3 separate regions of the Homo sapiens genome follow, and all the other regions are linked to region 3. The links come from fine-mapping of genetic effects on gene expression. A gene starts in region 3. Each other region holds a variant in brackets. All regions are shown on one strand. Distances are from middle to middle.

Evidence for each region. PIP is the estimated chance that this variant, and not a neighbour inherited with it, causes the effect. A credible set is the group of variants that fine-mapping cannot tell apart.
Region 1: its variant is the best candidate, but not a certain one, in a credible set for the expression of F2R in aorta (GTEx, PIP 0.86).
Region 2: its variant is the best candidate, but not a certain one, in a credible set for the expression of F2R in whole blood (TOPMed, PIP 0.59).

The regions. Positions count from the first base shown.
Region 1 is chr5:76,685,565-76,689,807 of GRCh38, reverse strand. The region is part of intron 30 of IQGAP2 (IQ motif containing GTPase activating protein 2); the gene reads right to left. Among named protein-coding and RNA genes, the nearest start is that of NCRUPAR, 25 kb to the left of the region's middle. The variant G/A (reference allele first, on the strand shown) is at 1,922.
Region 2 is chr5:76,752,317-76,756,559 of GRCh38, reverse strand. No RefSeq gene overlaps it. Among named protein-coding and RNA genes, the nearest start is that of F2R, 38 kb to the right of the region's middle. The variant C/T (reference allele first, on the strand shown) is at 1,894.
Region 3 is chr5:76,713,520-76,717,762 of GRCh38, reverse strand. F2R (coagulation factor II thrombin receptor) reads right to left here and starts at 1,637. Exons shown (of 2, transcript NM_001992.5): 1 at 1,368-1,637. The coding sequence starts at 1,455. RefSeq lists a silencer at 1,582-1,831.

The sequences.
Region 1 (4,243 bases), 28 kb after region 3:
GAAACTAAGGAATATTTTCAGTATTTAACATCCTAACAAGATAATTTACATTATTAGCTCCAGACCTCAAATATCACCTTAGCCATTTAGTGCTCCTGCTAGTTTGGACCAAAAAACAAGGAAATCTTTCAGCTGGGATCATGGAACCTAAACTTAATCATGTGACAGGAAATTCTTAAGAGATGACAATTTAAGCACTCAAGCAGCTAAGTATGATTAAAAACCACAAATATTGCCTTCTACTTAAACACACATACTTTTGTGGGAAACTAAGCTTAATTAAGGCCATAAGGATCACATATTTTAAGTTGAATCATAAGTTATAATGAAAGGTTGACAACTGCATAGTTTTATATAATTTATGTGGTATTAATTATAATTTCATGTGATCATCATAGCCCTTCCTTTCCCCTCTCCTCTATATTATGGAGGAGAAAACTGATGGCGAGGCAACTTGCTGAGTTCCATGGTTAATAAGTGATAGATTGAGGCTATAACCCTATGTCATCCCTAAGACCCCTCGACTAGGTTTTTAGGATTCCTCGACCAGGTTTTTTTTTTTTTTTTTTTTTTTTTTAAATATCCCTGTGCTTGGTAGTATTAGAAAAATAGCAATAGCCCAAACTGAGGTTCTCTATTCTATAAACATACACAAGGGAAAAAGAAATAAATGTTTCTTCCTACTCCGATATGTGCCCTTTGTCCCTCCTCTTTGGCCTGGAAAGATGCTCCAGCCTCCGTTACTCAGTAACTGCTCAGCTAATAATTCTCATTATTTATTCTAAGATTCCTAAGAATGCAAAGAACAATGACCTTGCCCTCGACAAGTTGTAAAACTTTATGATCAAGAGTGTGGGCCCTGGAGGATTTCAAATCATGTGGGTTTGAATCTCTGCTCCACTTAGTAACTGTGTTACCCAGGAAAAGGTTTATACCTGTTCTGTGCCTAGTTTCCTCATCTGTAAAATACTGATAATAACCTCCACTCTCTTGGGGTTGCTGAGAATATTACATACATATTTTATACATGTTTATTTTAATATATATATATGCACATGTTATTCTCTTTCTCTCTTTACAGATTGTGGGTCCCTTTTTCAAAATGCTTGGGCCCAAAAGTGTTTCAGATTTTTTATCTTTTCAGATTTTGGAACATTTGCATTATATACTTACTGCTTCAGCATCCTAAATCCGAAAATTCAAAACGCTCCAAAGAGCATTTCCTTTGACCACTGTCAGCTCTCAAAAGGTTTGGAATTCTGGAACACTTTGCATTTGCACAGTATATAAAAACTGTCCCTGGCCATGGTAAGCACTACATAGGTGTTTGCTATTATCATCATCTTCATCTTCATCTGATGAGTAAGAATTATGAGACTAGCATGGAATTAAATTTACAAACATAATGATTAACAATGCCTCAAATTCTGCTACTGTGGGGGCCTCCATGAAGATGAGTTACTCATGACTGGAAAACTAGTGACATTGTAATTAAACATAAGGGCATTTCTGAAAGTTAAGAACACAATCTGTTTCACAAAAAAGCAGAATAGTTTTTTGATAGAGAAAAGCTAGGTATTTTCACATCCCAATTGCTCTGCATTTCATGTCTGTCCACTTCATAACTTATAAAAGTCATTGTCCGATTTTAGTTAAATTTGGTTCTCTAATGAATCTCAAGAACTATATCTTATGCTTGAGTTACAAATTCGGTTTATTAGCTTGGAAAAAAGTCATCCTGATGAGAGTGTTCAAATCAAAAAAGTCATCCTCATGAGAGTTCAAATCAATATTTTAAAGGAGTGGTCCCCAACCCTTTTGGCACCAGGGACAGGTTTTGTGGAAGACAATTTTTCCATGGACAGGGTGGGGGATGGTTTCGGGAAGATGATTCAAGTGCGTTACATTTATTGTGCACTTT[G/A]TTTCTATTATTATTGCATTGTAATATATAATGAAATAATTATACAACTCACCATAATACAGAATGAGTGGATGCCCTGAGCTTGTTTTCCTACAACTAGACAGTCCCATCTGTGGGTGATGGGAGACAGTGATCATCAGGCATTAGATTCTCATAAGGAGTGTGCAACCTAGATCCCTTGCATGTGGAGCTCACAATAGGGTTCATACTCCTATGAGAATCTACTGCTGCCACTGATCTGACAGGAGGTGGAGCTCAGGTGTTAATGCCAGCAATGGGGAGCAGCTGTAAATACAGGATGAAGCTTCACTTGCTCCCCTCCTGCTGTGTCGCCTGGTTCCTAACAGGCCATGGACTGATACTGGTACTTTTAGACTTTAGTTTCCTTGCCTGCAAGAAAAAGACTCAGTTTTCAGGTTCCCTGTCAATGCTGCACTTTGTAATTATCTGTTAGTATCAAGATTTTTTCAAATATGTACTTTAAAGGAAGTATATTTAGAAGCAGGGCTTGGCTAAAATCATAGAACTAATTCTATTGAACCTTTTGGGCAATATCCAAATTTCACTTTCAGGGATGGCTAACCAGTCAGTGTTGATTTCAAATTGTTACCTACATTGATCACTGGGCTGCTTAGTAAAGTGGTCGGCCAACAGTAAGATCTCACAGTATGCCAAGAGGAAGGCCTTTGAGCATAAAAGACTTAGGGCCTCTATTAAAACACTGGCCTCAAGCCTTTTTTACATAAATGGAAAAGTTGATCCTAAAATTCACATATAACTGCAAGAGACCTATTCAACTGCAAGACTAAAACAATCTTGAAAAAGAAGAAAGAAGTTGGAGGACTTCCGTATTTCAAAACTCATTACAAAGCTACAGTGATCAATATGGTGTGGCACTAGTACAAGGATAGACATATAAGTGAATGGAGTAGAATTGAAAATCCAGAAATAAAGCCATACATGTATTGTCAATTAGTTTTTGACAAGGGTGCCTAGACCATTCTATGAAGAAAGAATAGTCTGTTTAACTAATAGTGCTAGAACAACTGGACATCCACATGCAAAAGAATGAAGGTGGGGCCAGGAGTGGTGGCTCACGCCTGTAATCCCAGCACTTTGGGAGGCTGAGGTGGGCGGATCATGAGGTCAGGAGATGGAGACCATCCTGGCTGACATGATGAAACTCCGTCTCTACTAAAAACACAAAAAATTAGCTGGGCATGGTGGCAGACACCTGTAGTCCCAGCTACTTGGGAGGCTGAGGCAGGAGAATGGCATGAACCCAGGAGGCAGAGCTTGCAGTGACCCGAGATCATGCCACTGCACTCCAGCCTGGGCGACAGAGCGAGACGCTGTCTCAAACAAAAAACAACAACAATAACAACAAGAAAGAATGAAGGTGGACACCTGTCTCACACCACACACAAAAATGAACTCAAAAAGGGTTAATAGACCTAACTGTAAAAGCTAAAACTATAGAACCTTTAGAACAAAACATTGGGGTAAATCTCACAAGTAACAACAACAACAACAACAACAACAACAAAAAAAACAGATAAACTGGACTTCATCAAAATAAAAAAAAAAAAACATTTGTGCGGAAAAGGACATTATCAAGAGAGTAAAAAGCCCACACAAGGGGCAAAAATATTTGCAAATCATATATCTGATAATGGTCCAGTGTCCAGAATATATAAACAACTCTTACAACTGAGGAACAAAACCACAAACAACCTAATTTTAAAATGGACAAAGGAGTTAAATAGACATTTCTCCAAAAAGAATACATAAATACACAAGTGGATGACAAACATATGGAAGGATCCTCAACATTACTGGTCATTGGAAAAGTACAAACCAAAACCACAGTGAGATACGACTTCATATCTTCAGGCAAAAGTTCAAAGACATAGAGTGCAGACTAGTAGTTGCTAGGGGCTGGGCAGCAGCGGGGAATGGGGAATGACTACTTAATGGGTACAGGGTTCACATCTGATAAAAATGTTCTGGAACTAGACAACAGTGATGGTTGCACACTGCGAATGTACTAAATGCATGTACACTTTAAAATGGCTGAAATGGTAAGTTTTATGTGTATTTTACCACAATAAAAAATAAACCCACTGCTGGCTCTACATAGTGTGGTGATTAAAGAAGTGGATAGTGTTTGTTTCCAACACACTGGGGGGGACGGGGGAGAGCCACACAAGGGCAGAGGCTGGGTAATGGGTAAGGCAAACAGGACAATGTCCCAGGTTTCCCAGGCTAAGACACATTGCTTCCAGACAGGCCTGACTTTTATGGTTTTATCTTTAAATGTGA
Region 2 (4,243 bases), 39 kb before region 3:
GGAAATTGGCTGTACTCAACAAATCAGACTGATTGCAGGTCCAGCCTTGGTTTGCAACTTTGTAACTTCACTCCAGCCTCTGAATGGTTGCTGTCCACAATCAGACTGATTTTGGGCGAAGTCTTCGTTTGCATAGAAGTATAACTTTGTAACTTCACCCTAGCCTCTGACTAGCTGCTTTTTGCAACCAATCAGATGTTTGCACAGGAGTGTGACCTTTGTAACCATTTCAGCCTCTGTTTGGCTGCCTTCTGCAACCAATCAGACTGATTGTGGGCTACCACTTTATTTACATGAGGTGAGCATCAGGTGGCCAATGGGAAACTTCTAGGGGTATTGGACCCAAGAAGATTCTGTGTCCGGGCCCTTGAGCTGCTGCTCCGCGCACTCCCACACTGTGGAGTGTGCTTTCATTTTCAATAAATTCCTGCTTTTGTTCTTTCGTTGCTTCACTCTTTGCTTTGCTAGGCATTTTGTCCAATTCTTTGTTCAAGATGCCAAGATCCTGGACAACTTGCAGTCACAACTGTCAACCGTCTACTGATGACACAAGGAATGAGGCCACAGAGGCCTACCTGGGGCACAGAGGACTGAGGTGGACGGAGGCTGGAAGGGTGCCCACCCACTGCAGCAGCTGCAGCCCAGCCTCTCTTGAGGGAACTGAATTCAGTAACAGGAGCCACCAGGCTCTGAGTGCTGTCTAGCAACACCCAAGGACCAGGATCCAAACAGCCAAGAGCAGAAAAACTCCACCTGGAAAGGTTCACTAAGTCCTTCTAGTAATGGGACCTTGAGGTTTTTAGGCCATTTTGCAGAAACTTAGGTGACATCTGAATGCTGTAGACCTGGCCGTTGTGAGATTGTTCAACTCTGCAGTCTGAGAGAATTCAAAAGAAAATACCTGGTTATCCCTAAATAAACTCTGAGCTGAACTGTTGGAAGACAGGCTGGAAGGGAAGCAAGGAGCAGGGTAGAAAGCTAGCCCAGAAAAGCATTTTGGGGTGTGTGTGTGTGTGTGTATATAGTGACACCTCATTTTTCAGTAACATTGGAAAAAAAGTCTTGTTTCAAATGCAGGAATATTCACATAACTGAAGCTTACCCTTCTGCGCTGGTGTAGATTAAGATTGTCCAACCCACAGCCCAGGGCAGCTTTGAATGGGGCCCAACACAAATTTGTAAACTTTCTTAAAACATTATGAGATTTTTTTTTTTGCAATTTTGTTTTAAGCTCATCAGCTATTGTTAGTGTCAGTGCATTTTATGTGCGGCCCAAGACTGTCCTTCTTCTTCCAGTGTGGCCCAGGGAAGCCAAAGGATTGGATACCCTTCATGTAGATTCTTCCAGAGGCGGATCTTGAGACAGGCTCTACCTCTGGAAGAACACAACTAGTTTACCTGGGACGTGCAGGAAGCACCTCTAGGGAAGTGGGGAAATGATAAAGATGGGATAGCAGCCACTAAAGGCTATGCTACCAACCCCGTTAGCACAGTGGGTGACTGGAGCCTCACCTAGTTGGCCACTCTGGGAGACTGTGTAAGATCTCACTCAAGGGGCATGGGAGCTAATGGATTTGCACACCAATGCCTGAGGGTTATTAGTGCTGCTCCCAGGGGAGCAGGGTGTGTTCATTCCCTGGCACTCTTGGGCTGCTGATGAGTGCAACTGTGTCCGGGAAATAAGCCTTCTGGTTTCAGAAAAACCTTCAGGTATGGATTTGGGCAGTTGGAAACCAGCCAGAGGATAATAAATCAGTGAGGTTCAAGGAATGTGAGCAGAGCACTGACAGTGTCTGTTGCATTTATTAATCCCCAGACTCACTTTAGACTCCTGAAATTTTCCAACACAGTACATGGAGCATAATTTAGTCCTTTCTTCACGGCTAAGCAGCA[C/T]CATAATGAGCATCAGTCATTTTAACTTCCTTTGTTGCTCCTGCTAGCAAGGTGATAGAATGGTTTGTTTTAAACCACAGGCCCTTGAAACTTCTGAGTTTGTTTTATATTTCCAGTGAATACTATTGAAAGAATGAATAAATAATTTTCCATGTCAATACATGCATTTTGTTTTTCTTGAAATGAAAATTTAAATCATAGAGGTAAACATTTGAGTACATTCTCTCATAAAAGGTTTACCCAATACATTAAAGCAAACATTCCCTTTGACCCTGCCCATGAATCTCACTTTCCTAGTGGATAACAAAGCATAACAGTGATTTGGGTATATTCTTCCCAACCATGTTAAAGGTATCTGTACATATATATGTATACCTTTAGAAATATGTAGCTTTGTTTTTGTGTTGTATATAGATACATGTATATATCTATATTAAACCACTGTTTATAACCAAAACATTTTCATCAACCCAACATAAACTCTATATGCATTAAATTGTCTCATTCTTTTTCATTCTCATCTTATAGATGTGCCATAATTTACTGATGGACATTGAGGTTTCCAGTTTTTTCCTAGTGCAGACATTGCTCAAGGAAATATTTTGCGTTCTTGCCATTTTGTGCATATGAAGATGTTTCTCTGTATATTCCCTGGAATTGAGGACAATTTAAACTCTTTCTTTGAAATTGTTATGCCACTTATTTCCTTATTTTTTCTGGATGTTTTTCTGGAATAGATGTTGACAGTGGAATTGGTGGGTGGTAGAGAATGCAAGTCAAAATTTTTGATAGAATAAAATTTCTTTCTGAAAAGGCTATATCCATTTATTCTCTTCAACTGAGAATGACAGCTTCCATTTCTCCATATCTTCACCCATATTGGATGTTATAAATCTTTTATTTTTGCCAATCAGGGTGAAAAAGAACTCATTTTAGCTGTTGAGATTGAACATATTTTCATATGATTATTAGTCATTTGTATTCAGTGAAATTCCTGTTCATACCTGATCTTATAAAAATATTCATTTTCCATATTATTAGGTTTGGTCTTTCTTATTATTATTTATAGGCACTGTTATGTTATTATGGCTATTAATATTTTGTCTGTTATATATGCCAGAAATAGTTTCTTCCATTCTATAGTTTGTCTTTTGAAAGTTGTTTATGGTTCTTTTTTGCCAGCTGGATGTTTTGAAAGCTTATTTAGTGAAATTTATCCATTTTATGGCTTCTTTGCTTAAGGAAGTCTATGCTATCCCAAAGTTATAACCACATTCACTTATGTTTCCTTTTAATTTGTCTGGAGTCTTGTTTTTCATGTTTTCCTCTTTTAATTAACCTGGAATTTATGTGGCAGCATAAAGTAAGGATCTAATTTTTTCTCCTCCCAAAATGCATAGCCAATTCTTTAATGCTTTTATTTATTTATTTATTGAGACAGAGTTTTGCTTTTGTTGCCCAGGCTTGAGTGCAGTGGCACGATCTTGGCTCACTGCAACCTCTGCCTCCTGGGTTCAAGTGGTTCTTCTGCCTTAGCCTCCCGAGTAACTGGGATTACAGGCGCCTGCCACCGCGCCCGCCTAATTTTTTGTATTTTTACTAGAGATGGAGTTTCACCATGATGGCCAAGCTGGTCTCGAACTCCTGACCTCAAGTGATCCACCCGCCTGGGCCTCCCAAAGGGCTGAGATTACAAGAGTGAGCCACCCCACCCAGCCAATGCTATTTATTTGTATCCTTTCACAATTAATATGGAATGCCTTCTTTATCAAAAAGTACACTCATGAAAGTGGATCTACTTTTCAACCTCATTCTATTTGATCGATGTATTTGTATTTTCTTGTACATTTCTGAGTGCTCGTCTCTGCTTTTCATTGTTCTTCTGTCTCTCTCTCTTTTATATGTGGATGTGGGTAGTGCCTCTGCCTCCAGCAGCATGGTTCCTTCTTAACAACTAACTCGAGTCTGCTGGGAGCTAGAAAGCAGTGGATAATCGGGCTTGTACGTATTGTGGCCAAGAAGAAAAAAGATGGCAACACAGCCTACAAATGTCCTATAAGCATTCTGGAAACACAAGGTTTATCTTCCTCCTCAGAAGCCTTTTTTTTTTTTCTGAGACAGGGTCTCACTTTGTCGCATAGGCTGGAGTGCAGTTCAGCCTTGGCTCACTGCAACCTCTACCGCCCAGGCTCAAGCAATCCTTCTGCCTCAGCCTCCTGAGTTGCTGGGATGATAGGTGTGCACCACCACAACCAGCTAATTTTTTTGTATTTTTAGTAGCGATCGGTTTTTGCCATGTTGGCCAGACTGATCTCGAGCTCCTGGCCTCATGTGATCCGCCTGCCTCAGC
Region 3 (4,243 bases):
AAAACACTGGATTCTCAAGAGCGTGTCCTCAAACTACATTGTGCAAATTACATAATGGTATGTGAAATCATATCTCATCGCAAACAATTTTTCAGGAGTTCTCGGTGTTCTCTCAAACACTTTCGGCAACAATGCTCACTTATCTGCAGGCAGGCTAGTTACTGCTAAACACTGGGCCCCAGTCTGGAGCTCTTAGTTTTCCCAAAAGCATCTCAAAACTCACCCTGAACAAAGACAGAGAGGCGAGAACATGCTATGTCTTTGTCACCTCTTAATCTTGATGTGTCTACACTTTTTTTTGAGTGTGGGAGCAATATAGAGTGCACATTCTTTTAGCGATAACAAGAAAACCCGCTAGAACTTCTTTCAGCGTAAAAAAAATGGCTCAAAGCTTATAAAATACTATTGTTATTAGGAAATTCAAAAACACTTTTCTCACTTTCTAATTAGCGCCTTTACAGGCTAAAAACAACTCATCTGTGCTGCTCTTGGGGAAAGGGATACAGAAAATATTTGACCAAATAAATTAATCAAATTTATTTATTTGGTCAAGTGGCCAGATACTTAAAAATAGACTACTAGTGGGGAAAATATTCTAGGGGAGCAACCTTCTTGCAGTGGATCAGAAATCTCGTTAAGAAATACTGGGATCCCACAGTGTTCGAGGGAGCCCGGTCCTGGGGAGGGATCTCTCTCTTCAACTCACTTAGAAGGAATGGGTTCTAGGTAACAACAAAATCCTCTCCATGTCCCCTCCCCCGCCACCACGCGGAGCCTCTGCTATTGTCACCATATATCTCGCACCCTGCGCACCTCCTGGACACAAGGCCGGGCCGGGGGCTGCTGGTACTGATTCTCTGCTAAACATGCCAAGGGACTGCCTGGGCTTTTCTCTACATCACTTTTCTCGCCTGTAAAATGTGCAAGAAAAAAACTTCCAACAAAGCAAAACTTCAGCGGCAGCGGTTCGCCACTTTATATTTTAAAGATCGAAACGTTTATTGGTGGAGCAACGTGAGAGCTTTTCTTTTTGGGGGTGGTCCTGGGAGAAACACAATGACAAGTGCAACGCAGGACTGCAGGCTCCCCCAGGGGGCTTCCGCTCCATCCTCCTCCATATCCAACACCCCGTGGCAGGCGGGCTGCACCCTCCAAGATCGAGTCCAAAGGGGCATCGGCTGGGCCCGCGAAGGGGGTGGCACGCCCCACCTAAACGTGACTGGAAAAAACTCCAGATCTCAGCCCAAATGCCAGTTTGGCTTTCGGAGGAAACTGAGGCAGGGGTGAGGAGAAGGCGCAACAGTGACCCCCGCAGTCTCCCCTCGGCGTCCCTCCGCCCGCGCACCCCATTCCCGTGCATCTCTCACCTGGCCTGCGGGCCCGGGTGCGGGCAGACAACAGCGGGCCGCACAGACTGAAGCAGGCGGCCACCAGCAGCAGCCGCCGCGGCCCCATTGTCCCGGGCTCTGCGCGGCGCTGCTCCGGGAGGCTGCCCCGCCTCGGGCTGCTCCGCTTCACCCTCTCTCCTGACTTCTGCGGGTCGGGGAGCCGGTCTTCGCGGCAGGCAGAGCGCAGGGTGCCCACGGGTAAGATCAGGGTCCAAGCGACCCTCGGCGAGCGCTGTGTCTGGGGCGGTTAGCGGGGCGGGGCGGGACTGGGGCGCGCGGTCGCGCGGGCGCGAGCGAGGAAGGGCGCCCTCCGGCGTGCAGTGAGAGTCTCTGCGCTGGAGCCGCTCGGCGCCCCCTCCCCGCGGTCCCTCAGCCGCCGCTCGCAAGCCCCTCTGGCTCTGTGCGCCCCGCCCCGCCCCGCCCTGCCCTACTGGGGGGCCCTGGCCGCCGGCCACTGCCGGGCCTAGAAGTCCAAATGAGAAGTTTTTTCCTCTGGGCACCGTTGATTCGCGAAGCTGTCAGTGACTCACACTGGCGGGGTCCTTGGAATGGGGCCGCACGGCTCGCAGGCTGCTTCCCGCGGCCGTCTCGACCCTCCTGGGATGTGGAGACGTCGACAGTGGACGCCCCGGCCAGGATGCGTCCACGCCCTGCAGCCCCGCAGCCCTGGCGTGGCCTCCCGTCCTCCCTCCCTCCGTGTGGGACACCGGCAAAGTTCAGTTTTCGCTAAAAGTCTAAAAGGGACTTCTGCTTTTGTAACGTGGGGATCACGGATTTAAAAGTTTATGATGTAGTGACAGGGTTGCCCCTAAATGAGAAAGGGCCCTTGAGTCTGGACAGAATTCTTGAACTTTTATACGTCTCTCTTTATTTCGCGAAGTTAGGCGTTTCATACGCCGGGCACTCGTTTCCCCCACACGCAGACTGCGAGTGGAATAGGAAGAGCGGCTTCTCCCGCTTCCCCCCCGCGCGGCCTCGCGGAGCTCTTCCCTTTCCCGCGCCGCCCGCCGGGGTCACCTGCGCATCTGGGAGGAGGGCGCGCGTCTGCCGGTGAGGCCGGCGTTCTAGGGCCGCGGGCGCCCAGGAGAGAAATGGCCTGGTAACTTTCCAAGTGTCCTTCACACGTTCTTGAACGATATTACAGTTTGTTTTGTTTTTGAGGCAGGGTCTTGCCCTGTCGCCCAGGCTGGAGTGCAGTGGCGCCAACACGGCTCACTGCAGCCTCGATCTCCCTGGCTCAGGCCACCCTTTCGCCCCAGCCTCCGGATTACCTGGGACCACAGAAAGGCGCGCGCCACCATGTCCGGCTAATTTCACTGCTGGCCTCAAGCGATCCTCCTGCCTCAGCCTCCTAAAGTGCGGGGATTACAGGCGTGAATCACCGCGCCAGGCCTGATATTAAAGGAGTTTGGCTAAATTCAAGGCACAGGGCGGGGACACTCGCTTGGCAGTCTGCTAAGGGCCCCCAGGGGCGTCGCGGCTGGGGGTGGGCAGGAGGAGCCTGCAGCTTAAGTTGCTTTGCCACTGGCTCTGGTGCGTGCGCCTTTCAGACTCCAACAGGAAATGGGTCCCCAAATAGCTGTTTCTAGGAAAGCTCAGCCGCAGCCCCTTCTCCTCTTAACCCAGCGCACTGATGTGCGGGCATATTCGGAGTTCTGTGGTTGATAAGCTGCAGCTGAGAGCCGGTGGTCAGTTTTCTAAGCCTTTTTTAAAAGTGAATTTCGCACGAAGAGTATCATTCCCCCACTAGAGCCCGGACACTTACATCCGTGGAGAAAGTACGATCAGAGGCGATTTCGTTCTTCCCTGTATTCTCCCATCATCCTCAAAGGACAGTACCTTGTTGTACACAGAAGTTGATCACTAAATTGCGGAAGTACCCAGTTAAATAAAGCTTTTTAAAATCTATCCCCGTTCAGTTATCCTCTGGAAACATACCCAAGAGTAAATGTGAACAGTTAAAATTACATAGTTCTTCATTCACTATTAAACTATTTTTCATTATTCCTAAGACGTCATTGATTTTACAATTTATCATTTTAACCCATTACCACAAGCCAGAAAAAAATGTGACATACCAATGATTGTAAGAAACACTCCAATTTCAGGGTTATGAAGAAAAGGCATTTTAGAATCAATGAAACACAGTGGAAAATATAAACACATATGACAAAATTTCTGATAGTTGAAGGATATGAAATGAAAAATAAATTACCTTCTGCCTCCCCTCCCCTAGTTGCCATCTGACCACTAAGTTTCCCCTCCTTCCTTCCTTCCTTCCTTCCTTCCTTCCTTCCTTCCTTCCTCCCTCCCTCTCTTCCTTCCTTCCTTCCTCTCTTCCTTCCTTCCTCTCTCTCTCTCTCTGTCTTTCTTATTTTCTTTCTTTCTTTTTTTTCCTGAGGCGGAGTTTCACTCTTGTTGCCCAGGCTGGAGTGCAATGGCGCGGACTCGGCTCACAGCAACCTCCGTCTCCTGGGTTCAAGCGATTCTCCTGCCTCAGCCTCCCGAGTACTTGGGATTACAGGCGCCTACCACCGCGCCTGGCTAATTTTTTGTATTTTTAGTAGAGACTGGGTTTCACCATATTGGCCAGGTTGGCCTCAAACTCCTGAACTCAGGTGATCCACCCGCCTTAGCCTCCCAAAGTGCTGGGATTACAGGCATGAGCCACCGCATCCAGCTACCTGACCACTAAGTTTCTGTTCACCATTCAAAAAATCATATCCACATACAAATTGCATATATGTATATCCTTAAAATAAGAATGGAATAATACCACCACATTTTAAAATTTTATCTGTGTCATTGGTGGAAAATGTTATTTTTAACCATTTTACAAAACGATAAAGCTTAAA